Homo sapiens: one gene and its partner. The protein of the gene in region 1 interacts with the protein of each later gene in a pairwise test. Each region holds a gene or a part of one and is shown in the gene's direction. Other genes may lie near its edges.

Region 1 (9,148 bases):
GAGTTTCATAAACACAATGTTAACACAAAAAAGACAGAAGAGGGCATACCATATGCTTCCCTTTAAATTAAGCAAAAGCAGGATGTTTGAAGTTAAAACAGTGGTTATTTTGGAAGCAGGTAAGACCCAGAAGGGAACCCAAGGGGGTTTCTGGGGTGTTGTCATGTCCTGCCTATCATCTGCGTGCCAATCACGTGTGTTAGCTTTGTAAAATTTCATCTTGCTGTACTTAATGATACATGCATTTTTCTATTATTTACGTACACTTTAATAAATTTACAAAAACAAAAAATTAATAAAATTTACCAAAAAAAGATGGTCATTAGCAAATTACTGTTGGATCAAATTCTGGCTTTTCTCACTGAGTTCTTTTATAATTCTTCTCATCCAAGGTGCTTTGGTAATTTAGATGAGTTTCACGGTTCAAAAAATTGGACATATATTAATCCTCACCATTTAAATTCTCTCCTAAATTTTCCTGTATTTTAATTGTACATAATTTTCACCCATTTTTTTTCTTAACAACTCAGATGTTAAAAAATTAAAGCATTGAGGCTGGGCGCGGTGGCTCATGCCTGTAATCCCAGCACTTTGGGAGGCTGAGGCGGGTGGATCATGGGGTCAGGAATTCACGACCAGCCTGGCTAAGATGGTGAAACCCTGTCTCTACTAAAAAAGAAAAATTAGCCAGGCATGGTGGCGGGTGCCTGTATCCCAGCTACTTGGGAGGCTGAGGCAGAGAATTGCTTGAACCTGGGAGGCGGAGGTCGCGATGAGCTGAGATCACACCACTGTGCTCCAGCCTGGGCGACAGAGCGAGGCGCCGCCTAAAAAAAAAAAAATTAAAGCATTGACACTTCTTGTTTCTGAAGTGGGAGATAGGATATTGAATATCAGGAAGTGAGGTTTTCTGTGTTTATGAGATGGGTGACTTTGTGCAGAAGACTCTGTTAAGATTCTGGTTACTTCTCAGACTGGAGCTAGAATCATGCAGTCTTATAACTCAAAGAGCCTTTAGAAACCGGCCAGCCCTAGTCGACCCACTTTGCAGAGGACCAAACCTGTGATCAGAGAGCTTAAGTAAATTTGCTGTCTGTCGCAGTGTGGTCAGAAATAGAATCAAGCTTTCTCACTCTAATTTCAGAAAGCCCTTGCTCCTCAGCATATACTGGGTATTTCTGCATTATTGGGTAACACTCTGCCTTTACTCAGACATTGTAGACTGTTTTGATGTCAGCCTTACCGTAATCAGAAGTTCCACTGGAGTTATGCATAAAGGCAAAGAATAAATGTAAGATTAAATTGAATGACTCACTGAATATTTCTAATCTCTGTGTTATTTTCAGCATGTAAAATAACCATGGGCAATAGAAATGCAAGCATCTATCTCATTTGTGCATTTATGTGTAGTTATATGAATCTGTTAATCCCAATAATTCTAAGCAGCTAAGTATAACCACCTACCTTTATCTTTCAGGTTACAATTTTTTTTTTTGAAACAGAGTTTTGTTCTTGTTGCCCAGGCTGGAATGCAATGGTGCGATCTCGGTTCACTACAACATCCGCCTCCCTGGTTCAAGCGATTCTCCTGCCTCAGCCTCCTGAATAGCCAGGATTACAGGCGTTTGCCACCACGCCCAGCTAATTTTTGTATTTTTAGTAGAGATGGGTTTTACCATGTTGGCCAGGCTGGTCTCAAACTCCTGACCTCAGGTGATCTGCCTGCTTTGGCCTCCCAAAGTGCTGGGATTACGAGTGTGAGCCACCTGTGTAGCCTCAGCTTACAATTTCTGTTGATACTGTCCCTTCTCATTTTTTATAAACCTAAGTTGTGGTAATGGTTAAAAAGTTGATGGGCAGGTGTTGGGGAAGGTGGAATTTTTAAATTTGATAAATTTAACATCATCTAATTCTGGGCCAGGTGTGGTGGCTCACGCCTGTAATCCCAGCGCTTTGGGAGACCAAGGCAGGCAGATCATGAGGTCAAGAGACCATCCTGGCCAACGTGGTGAAACCCTGTCTTTGCTAAAAATACAAAATACAGAAATTAGCTCGGTGTGGTAGCGCATGCCTGTAGTTCCAGCTACGCGGGAGACTGAGGCAGGAGAATTGTTTGAACCCGGGAGGTGGAGGTTGCAGTGAGCCGAGATCACACCACTGTACTCCAGCCTGGCAACAGAGTGAGACTCTGTCTCAAAATAAATAAATAAATAAATAAAATTATCTAATTCTAGAGTCTTTCTTTTTGGATGAAATTATCTGGATTTGAAATACCATATTATACCCAACACTATATTTCATACTTTGCAGCAAAATTAAACATACTATCTAATGATTTCCTTTTGAGATAGTCTATTATTGGCACTTGTTTAAAAAGTCCTTATTCACATGAATGATGTAGGCTTTAGAACTGAACACCATACAATATTGACAGTTTAAACATTGATTAGAAAAAAGTGAGAGGATTATATATTTTTAATTTCATCTGTGAAATGATATTAAAAGATCAGCATTTGATTACTGAGTACTTACATGGGAAAAAGCAATTACTAAAAATGTTAAATAAGACCATACTCAATATTCTACAAGGTTCTAAAATTAGTGGGGAATGAATTATTGGATGACCAAATTACATTATCATTGGAAGGACTTAAGTTATTTCTCGTCTTGATTTTAATCAAACATTTTCATTTGGATTAGATTAAAGAGGATATTCCTGAAACAAAGATGAAATTCTTATCAGTTGAAACTCCTGAGAATGACAGCCAGTTGTCAAATATCTCCTGTTCGTTTCAAGTGAGCTCGAAAGTTCCTTATGAGATACAAAAAGGACAAGCACTTATCACCTTTGAAAAAGAAGAAGGTATGACTAATGTTAAAAAATATGACCATGTTATTTGGAAAGCACTTTCATAGACATTTAGCTATTACTTCGCTAATATTACTTCACTTATATTATTTCTTATCCTCATAGTGACGTTCTGAGGCAGGTATGATTATTCCCATTTTACAGATGAGAAAACTGACTCTGAGACAAGTGCCTTGAATATGATCTTGTATTCAGAAAGCCATGACTGTGGGACTTAATCCAGGTGCTATGATGATGTCCAATACCAGCCTCTTTCTACTCCACATGCTACCTCCAAATAATGATAGTAATATTTCAAGGTAGTAGAGCTGTACAGTTCTCAGAGACATTATCACATTTTATACTCACACAATTCCATAAATATAGGAGGATAGGATAGTTATTATTGTGTACTTTAAATATAGACATGCCAGAGCCAAGAAAACAGATTCTGAGGATGTTTAAGTGATTTACCTAAGGGAACATAGCCAACGAATGAGAAGAGCCTGGGAGCTAGAGATTTGGAATGAAACCTAATGTTTGCTAAGTCTGCCATGGTGAGGGCCCCTGTTCAGAGCTGGGGGTTCCTGAGTGGGGAGGATCTGGCTTTGAGTGCCAGCCTTGTCCCTTCCTAGAAGCATGATTTGGGATAGGTTCTTTATAAACCTCAGGGTTTTATACAGGTGCTTCATGGTAGTACCTACTTCATGAGGCTGCTTTGAGTATTAAATGAGAAATGTTGATAAAATACTTAGCACAATGTTGGACACTTAATACAAACTTAATGGATGTTAGTTTTTGCTACATGTTAGAAATTTTTCAGATAAGGATACAGAAGCTTAAAGAAGATAATTAACTTGCTTAAAGTCTATACGGTTAGTTGCAGAGCTTAGAGCCAAACCCTGAGAGTCCATGTACTTCCACTGGGCCAATATTTCTCTCGGTAGGCCACCAGCCCAGGCCTTTGTTCTTTTATTTAAGTTATGTGGTGAGGGACCAGATGGTGTTCCCAGCCCTTCCAGTGCTCATATTCTGACAGTCTATAACCCATGTTTCCTCAAAACTGGTGCACCACTGTAGCCTGAAAATAAATGTTGAAAGGCATTCCAGCAGGACAGTATCTGTGCGTAGAAGACATGCATCGCCAGTGTGTTTTCCTTCACCCTGGAGCTACTGCTACAGGTAGAAGAGGAGTCCAGGACTCATACTGGCGACTGGTAATCGGGATATAACTAAAAGATAGATATAAATGAGGATTTGGGAGGCAGGATTTCTGCACAGCAATTTCCTGGGAATGTTGGAAATGGAATTCTCTAAAAGCACCTACATCATTGCTTCTACGCTTGACGTGGCTCTGAGCTCCCAATCTCCTGGGACAGCAGTAGGTTTGAAACACAATTAAGTAGGAGTTGGCTCTTGATTGTCAGAGTCACAACAATTGAGACACAAGCGGTCCCTCTCAGCTGTATCAGATCACCAGATGTTGGGGGTTTGTGGAAGAGTGGGAGGGAAAGAGGATCATCTGAGTATTACTCATTGATATTTTCTGTTATTGTCTGTTGTCATTAGCAAAAAAACACAAAAACACAAAAAAACAAAAAACCATCATCCAAGTTATAGAGTCATATTTTGGTACAGTGAGTTGAATTCCCACATGGCCAAGGCCCTGCCTTCTGGCCCTTTTTTCTCTTCCTCCAGCTGTGGTGTGGTGCCATCTGGTCTGGTTGTCATAAACACATGTGAAGTTTTATAAGACAGAGAGTGAATGTCACTTATTTTCATGATACATTGGAATAGCAGCCCCAAATATCAACAACTGCAGTATTATAAACTCATGCCACACAATTAAAAATAAATGCCCACTCACATTTTTAATTGACATAGAGTTGCCTTTTGGAGTGCTAGTGATTTTTAGCATTTTACTAAACCTCTCCCATTTGCACAGGTAAATTAGACTTGACAGCTTTGTGATCAATATAGCAGGACTATCAACTTTTTAAAGAATGATTTCAAGAGCATTTTTGCAAAAGTGGAATTCGTCATTAAGTATGACCAAAAAAAAGACTCACTCTTTGATGTTCCAGCCTATGTAGTCTTTAACATGTAATCCTTGAGAAGACAGAGCAAATGAATATATATTGCTCTAGTGCTTGTAACATATTAAGGAGTAACAAATGATAAGGTTAAGTAAAATCAAGACTAATTGTACAAATGACACTTAGCCATGAAAGTTTTCCCAGCTTACTGAACATGGGACACTTTCTGGCTGTGCATTAATGTACTAGGGGAATCCTCTGGTAATTGTTAATAGTGGAAGGAAGGGTATGTGGCTGAGCTGAAGTAATATATGAATTCTGGAAGATTGTTAGGCTTATCTCTTAAGAGATAAGAGAAAAGATTCATCTTATGAGAAGAATCTAGAACTTGAGAACTTCTACATTGTGATTTTGCTGATATACTTTGACATTAATATATTCTACTTTGGGACCAAGAGCAGTGGCTCATCCTGATAATACCAGAACTTTGTCTGGGAGTCCGATGCAGGAGGATTGCTTGAGTCCAGGAGTTCCAGAGCAGCCTGGGTAACAAAGTGAGAGCTCGTCTCTACAAAAAGTTAAAAAAATTAGCTAGGCGTGGTGGCATGCACCTGTAATCATAGCTATTCTGGAAGCTGAGGTGGGAGGATCTCTTGAGCCCAGGAGTTTGAGGTTACAGTGAGCTATGATCACATCACTGCATTCCAGCTTCAGTGACAGAATGAGATCTGGTCCTCCTTCCCCCTGACCCCCCAAATTATATATTCTACTTTGGTAGCAAGACCATTATCACTTGGAATCACCGCCCGCCAAATTTTTAAAATTAGACCCTTTAATATTAAAGAAAATTAAAAATATTCAGGATAATTTGTTCTTAAACCAAAAGCATAACAATTCTTAAAATATTGGAAATTAATACTTCCTTCCTGAATTATTTTTCAGTTGCTCAAAATGTGGTAAGCATGAGTAAACATCATGTACAGATAAAAGATGTAAATCTGGAGGTTACGGCCAAGCCAGTTCCATTAAATTCAGGAGTCAGATTCCAGGTAACAGGATGATTAAAATTTTTTGGATTTCTGTTCATCACAAGCACTTCTCTCATCCATATTTCTGAACATCAAATCATTTTCCAGGTTTATGTAGAAGTTTCTAAAATGAAAATCAATGTTACTGAAATTCCTGACACATTGCGTGAAGATCAAATGAGAGACAAACTAGAGCTGAGCTTTTCAAAGTCCCGAAATGGAGGCGGAGAGGTGGACCGCGTGGACTATGACAGACAGTCCGGGAGTGCAGTCATCACGTTTGTGGAGATTGGAGGTACTCAAGGGTGTAGAAGGTTAACAGACACTCTGCCATTTCAGTCATGTTCTGTTGTTTCTGAAAGTATTCCTATTCTACTTCTTTTATTTGGAATGTATTAGCATGATAATTGGGGATTTTAAAAAACCTTATAAAATAGTAGAGTGTAGGAAATTATTTCCAGGGACAGTACTAGGAAAGATAATATTGCTACAAATAGGCAGGGTGCAGTGGCTCACCCCTGTAATCCCAGCACTTTGGGAGGCGGAGGCAGGCGGATCACTTGAGGTCAGGAGTTCAAGACCAGCCTGTCCAACATGGCGAAACCCCATCTCTACTAAAAATACAAAAATTAGCCAGGCATGGTGGCAAGTGCCTGTAATCCCAGCTACTTGGGAGGCTGAGGCAGGGAGAATCACTTGAACCCAGGAGGTGGAGGTTGCAGTGAGCTGAGATCACCAGGCATAGTGGTGCGTGCCTGTGGTCCCAGCTACTCAGGAGGCTGAGGTGGGAGGATTACTTGAGGCCAGGAGGTTGAGGCTGCAGTGACCTGTGATTGCACCACTGCACTACAGCCTGGGAGACAGAGTGAGACCCTGTCTCAAAAAACAAAATTAAAAAAAAAAATTGATGGATTAGATTTTTTCATGACAAAGTAATACATGCTTTTTTAAGGAAGGTGAAATAATACAGAAGAGCAAACATTTAGTAAAAATGAGACATTTCGGCCGGGCCCGGTGGCTCATGCCTGTAATCCCAGCACTTTGGGAGGCCGAGGCAGGCAGATCATGAGGTGAGGAGTTCGAGACCAGCCTGACTAACATGGTGAAACCCCGTCTCTACTAAAAATACAAAAAAATTAGCCAGGTGTGGTGGCGCATGCCTGTAATCCCAGCTACTCGGGGGGCTCAGGCAGGAGAATAGCTTGAACCCAGGAGGTGGAGGTTGCAGTGAGCCGAGACTACGCCACTGCACTCCAGCTTGGGCGACAGAGTGAGACTCCGTCTCAAAAAAAAACAAAAAGAGACATTTCCTCAAACTTCCCTTTCTCCTACTATTTAGTTAGTTATGGTTATTTGGGTGTCTTTCCAGGCTTTTCTCTGGGCACATTAAAACATGTCAATATCCTTTTTTTTTTTTTTTTTTTTTTTTTTTTTGTGAGACAGAGTCTTGCTCTGTCGCCCGGGCTGGAGTGCAGTGGCACTATCTCAGCTCACTGCAACCTCCGCTTCCCGGGTTCAAGCAATTCTCCCACCTCAGCCTCCCGAGTAGCTGGAATTACAAGTGCATGCCACCATGCCTGACTAATTTTTGTATTTTTGGTAGAGACGGGGTTTCACCATGTTGGTCAGGTTGGTCTCGAACTCCTGACTTCAAGTGATACGCCCGCCTTGGCTTCCCAAAGTGCTGGGATTACAAGCATGAGCCGCCGCTCCTGGCCCAATATGCATTTTTGACCTGAGCTTTTGGATGATGTTTAGGACATCCTGGTGGGATGTGTCAGGGAGAGCTATAAAAGGAAGGGGTCTTGAGGGCTACAGTAATATGTTGTCTTGGAAATGAACAATAACTTGGTGGAAACTTCCATAGTCAAGCATCCAGATTTTAATTTGCCAAATTCATATATTCATTTAGCCTGTTTGGTGTTAGTTTGTCTATATCTTGGATTTTAAAAAATCTGGCCAGGCGCAGTGGCTCATGCCTATAATCCCAGCACTTTGGGAGGCGGAGGCGGGTGGATCACTTGAGGCCAGGAGTTCAAGACCAGCCTGGCCAACATCGCGAGACCCCTTCTCCACCAAAAATACAAAAATTAGCGGATGTGCTGGCTCACGCCTATAGTCCCAACTACTTGGGAGGCTGAGGCAGGAGAATTGCTTGAACCTGGGGGGTGGAGGTTGCAGGGAGCTGAGATTGCATCACTGCACTCCAGCCTGGGTGACAGAGTGAGACTCGGTCTCAAAAAAACCGAAATAAAATAAATAAAATAAAATAAACTAGAATGCAATTTATAACTCTACTGTGAGAGATAATACTAGCTTTGGAACCTGTGTCCTTGGGCCATCTGGGGATGTTCTCCTAGAGGTTACATCTAGCCAGATGGGAAAAATACTTCTGCAGGTTATAGGTTATCCAGCAGGTAACTACTGAAGGATGTGAAGGTATTCTGGAGATAAATATGCCAGATACTTCATAAACTGTGTCTTACTGACTCATCACAATAATCTACAGGGTAGGTACTGTAATTATGCTTATTTTACAGAAAAAGAAACTGAGGCTTTAAGAAGTCAAGCAACATATCCAAGGCCACATAGCTCATAAGTAGCAGAGCTAGGACTGAAGCTGGTCTATTTGACTCAGGACCTGTACTCTTTTTTTTTTTTTTAACTGTGATAAAATATATATAACATAAAATTTACCATTTTAACAATTTTTAAATGTACAATTCAAGGGTACTAAGTACATTCACAATGTTGTACAACCATCACCACTATCCATCTCTAGAACTTTTTAATCACCCCAAACTGAAACTCTGTACCCATTTAACAATAATTCTCCATTACCTCTTCTTCCAGCCCCTGGTAACCATCATTCTACTTTCTGTCTCTATGAATTTGCCTATTCTAGGTACCTCATTCAAGTGGAATTATACAATATTTGTCCTTTTCCTGTCTGTCTTATTTTGGTTAGCATAATGTTATCAGGGTCCATCCATGTTGTGGTATGTATCAGAATTTCATCCTTTTTAAAGGCTGAATAATATTCTCTGTGTGTGTGTGTATTTTATATATCCATTTTGTTGATCTGTTCATCTGTTGGTGGATGCTTGGGTTGCTTCCACCTTTTGCCTATTGTGAAAAATACTGCTCTGAGCATTAACGAGCAAGTATCTGTCCGAGTCCCTGCTTTCAGTTGTTTCGGGTATATACCCAGAAGTTGAATTGCTGGATCATATCAT
Region 2 (3,729 bases), on another chromosome or scaffold:
TTTTCTGCTTATTTTTCAGTCCATTGTCCTAATTCATAGTGTCCTAGAAAGTGTATCCATTCATTTGACAAATACTTTCTGAGCATGCACTATGTGTCTGACACTGTTCTAGGCATTAGGGAGACAGGAGGAAGCAAATGCAAAACCCTGCCCTCATGTGCTTATATTCTGTAGTGGGAACATCCTTCCCCATCAGTTCACATGGATCCAGCTCATTGTCTATAATAACTGCCTGGAATTCCACAGACTGCACGTGCCATACCTTATTTAACCATTATTCCTTTGGCAGATGTTTAGGAGGTTTTATTGTTACTAACCCACGCCACAGTGAACATCGTTGCACTTATCCTTGTCTATTTTTTGTAGGTTCGTTCTAAGAAGAAGTTGTTAGGTCTAAGAGTATATTCACCTAAAATCTTGATACTGCCAAATTGCCATCCAAAAATGCTGTACCAACAACACACCCACCAGCGGGGACCAAACATTCCAATTTCCCCATCTTCTCACCAGCTCTAGAAATTATTTGCCAATTGGATGGATGAAAAATGTTCTCATTGTGTCCTGTTCTGTTCTGTTCTGTTCTTCTGTTCTGTTTTGTTTTGTTTTGTTTTGAAACAGCTCTGCTCTGTTGCCCAAGCTGGTATGCAGTGGCACAGTCACGGCTCACTGCAGTCTTGTCCTCCTGGGCTCAAGTGATCCTCCCACCTTAGCCTCCTGAGTAGCCAAGACTACAGGCAGACACCACCACACCCAGCTAATTTTTGTATTTTTTGTAGAGACAGGGTTTCGCTATGTTGCCCAGGCTGGTCTCAGACTCTTGGGCTCAAACAGTCCTCCTGCCTCAGCCTCCCAAAGTGCCGGAATTACAGGTGTGAGCCACTGCACCCAGCCATCATTGTTTCAACTGGCAGTATGTCCAGTTAGTGATGTTAAACATCTATTAATAACCTTATTGGCAAATTTTATTTCTTCTTCTATGAATGTCATTTTTCTTTTGGTTTCATAATTCCCATCTGCTTGGGAAGTTCCAAGAAACTGTAACATAACACATTTGTTAATAGCACCTTTCTCTGTAATCTTTTGTCTATGCATCTATTTTCTTACCTTTTCTGTCATTTCAGTGTGCTTGTGAGGCGGTGCACGTAAGTGTACTAGACATGCCATCTTGAAATAGAGATCCATTCATTTTAAACAGCACTAAATTGCCTATTTTTCTAATATAGATTTATCAGGGGAAGAGAAACATTTGGAAGTCCAAATACTGCTGGAGAATACTGGAAGACAAAAAGACAAAAAAGAAGACCAAGAAAAGAAAAACATTTTTGTGAAAGAAGAGCAAGAACTACCACCAAAAATAATTGAAGTTATTCATCCTGAAAGAGAAAGCAATCAAGAAGATGTTCTAGTAAGAGAAAAGTTTAAAAGAAGCATGCAGAGAAATGGTGTGGATGACACACTTGGCAAAGGCACTGCTCCCTACACGAAAGGCCCCCTCAGACAAAGAAGACATTACTCATTCACAGAAGCAACTGAAAACCTGCATCATGGGCTTCCTGCTTCAGGGGGGCCAGCCAATGCCGGCAACATGAGGTACAGTCATAGTACAGGCAAGCATCTCAGTAACAGAGAGGAAATGGAGCTAGAGCATTCTGACAGTGGGTATGAGCCCTCATTTGGTAAGTCTTCCAGAATAAAAGTGAAGGATACAACTTTCAGAGATAAGAAAAGCAGTCTCATGGAAGAACTCTTTGGATCAGGCTATGTCTTGAAAACTGACCAATCAAGTCCTGGTGTTGCAAAAGGCTCAGAGGAGCCTTTGCAAAGTAAGGAGTCGCATCCCCTGCCTCCCAGTCAGGCCTCCACCAGCCATGCTTTCGGAGACTCTAAAGTAACTGTGGTAAATTCTATTAAGCCATCGTCACCTACAGAAGGAAAAAGAAAAATAATTATTTAAATATAATCAATATCCTAATGCATTCTGGTTTGATATAATGCTGCTTATGTGCCTTGCATCTTATTTTTGAAATGTGTGAGAGAGGGAGTGTATGTATGTGTGTGTTTTAGTACTTAATTGACTTTCGATAATTAAATTTTTGTTTGATTGCTAATCTAGTAAAAAATCTATTTTATATTAGCCAATGATAACACTTCAAATACAAATTTACATCTTTACAACTGAAACATCCATTATCTTCTGGAAGACTGGTTTACTATATGGTTTTAGTATTCTGTGGGACTCCATAGCTAGTAACTCTTAAGTTAGTCAACCCAAGACATGCATCTCCTACACAACAAAATTTATCAGCAATAGAGTTGAATTGTAACTTAAAAACATGGAAGCAGGCCAGATGCAGTGGTTCTTGCCTGTAATCCCAGCATTTTAGGAGGCCAAGGTGGGAGGATCACTTGAGTCCAGGAGTTTAAGACCAGCCTGGCCAACATGGTACAACCCCGTCTCTACAAAAATTATAAGAATTAGCCAGGTGTGGTGGTGTGTGCCTGTAGTCCCAGCTACTTGGGAGGCTGAGGTCAAAGAATCACTTGTGCCCAGGTCGAGGCTTCAGTGAGCATGATCGTGCCACTGCACTCTAGCTTGGGCAATCGGAGTGAGACCGTGTCTCAAAAAATAAAAACAAAATGTGGCAGCAGCTTTGAAAGGGAACAATATGATCAAAAGACTCTTTTTACTAAAAAAAAAAAATAGGCTGGGTGCCATGGCTCACGCCAGTAATCCCAACACTTTGGGAGACCGAGGTAGGTGGATCACCTGAGGTTAGGAGTTTGAGACCAGCCTGGCCAACATGGTGAAACCCTGTCTCTACTAAAAATACAAAAAATCAGCTGGGTGTGGTGGCACATGCCTGTAATGGCAGCTACCCAGGAGGCTGAGGCAGGAGAATCGCTGGAACCCCAGGAGGCAGAGGCTGCAGTGAACCAAAATAACACCACTGCACCCTAGCCTGGGTGACAGAGCGAGACTCCATCTCAAAAAAAAAAAAAAATACATATATGTATGTATGTGTGTATATATATAGTGATTACCAAGCTTAGTTTCATGAAAATCTTTTTTTTTTTTTTTTTTTTTGACAGTGTCTCAGTGTGTCACCCAGGCTGGAGTGCAGTGATAACAATCTTGGCTCACTGCAACCTCCGCCCTGCCGGGGTTCAAGCGATTCTCGTGTCTCAGCCTACAGAGTAGCTGGGATTACAGGCATGCACCACCACACCCAGCTAATTTTTCTATTTTTATTAGAGACTAAAAATGGTTTTGCCATGTTAGCCAGGCTGGTCTTGAACTCCTGACCTCAGGTGATCTGCCCACCTCAGCCTCCCAAAGTGCTGGGAATGACAGGCGTGAGCCACCGTGCCCAGCCATGAAAATCATTTTTGAGTTTCTCTTATTCAGCTAACCTGGGTATCCAATGTCCTGCCTTTGTGGGTGATGCTTTCCTTGTGTACACCTGAGATCCAGTATCATTTATTGAGATTTGTTGCATACCTGTATGTTGACCATTTTTCTGTTAACCTTGTTCTAAAAACCATAAAACAGTACCATGGCCCTGCTGGTGTTTATTCGAGCTAGCTGCTCAGTCCTAACTAATATATTTACTAAACTTAGGATATTTTAAATTAGGACTGTAAAAAGGAGGCTATACTCCCAGCCTCACTTTATTTAGCTTACTTCATTTAGTTATAAGGGCAACTTGTTTATAATCTAGACCATACTAT

The links.
Region 2: the proteins of NMI (region 1) and LCA5L interact in binary tests that used the Homo sapiens proteins (3 or more experiments, as listed by UniProt).

Annotation. Positions count from the first base shown.
Region 1 is NC_000002.12:151,272,543-151,281,690, reverse strand, and holds part of NMI (N-myc-interactor), read left to right. Parts: intron 1-2,700; coding exon 2,701-2,863; intron 2,864-5,826; coding exon 5,827-5,933; intron 5,934-6,020; coding exon 6,021-6,207; intron 6,208-9,148. UniProt on the Homo sapiens protein: Acts as a signaling pathway regulator involved in innate immune system response.
Region 2 is NC_000021.9:39,404,107-39,407,835, reverse strand, and holds the end of LCA5L (lebercilin-like protein), read left to right. Parts: exon of another isoform or gene 1-43; intron 44-1,104; exon of another isoform or gene 1,105-1,223; coding exon 1,224-1,954; 3' UTR 1,955-2,108; downstream 2,109-3,729.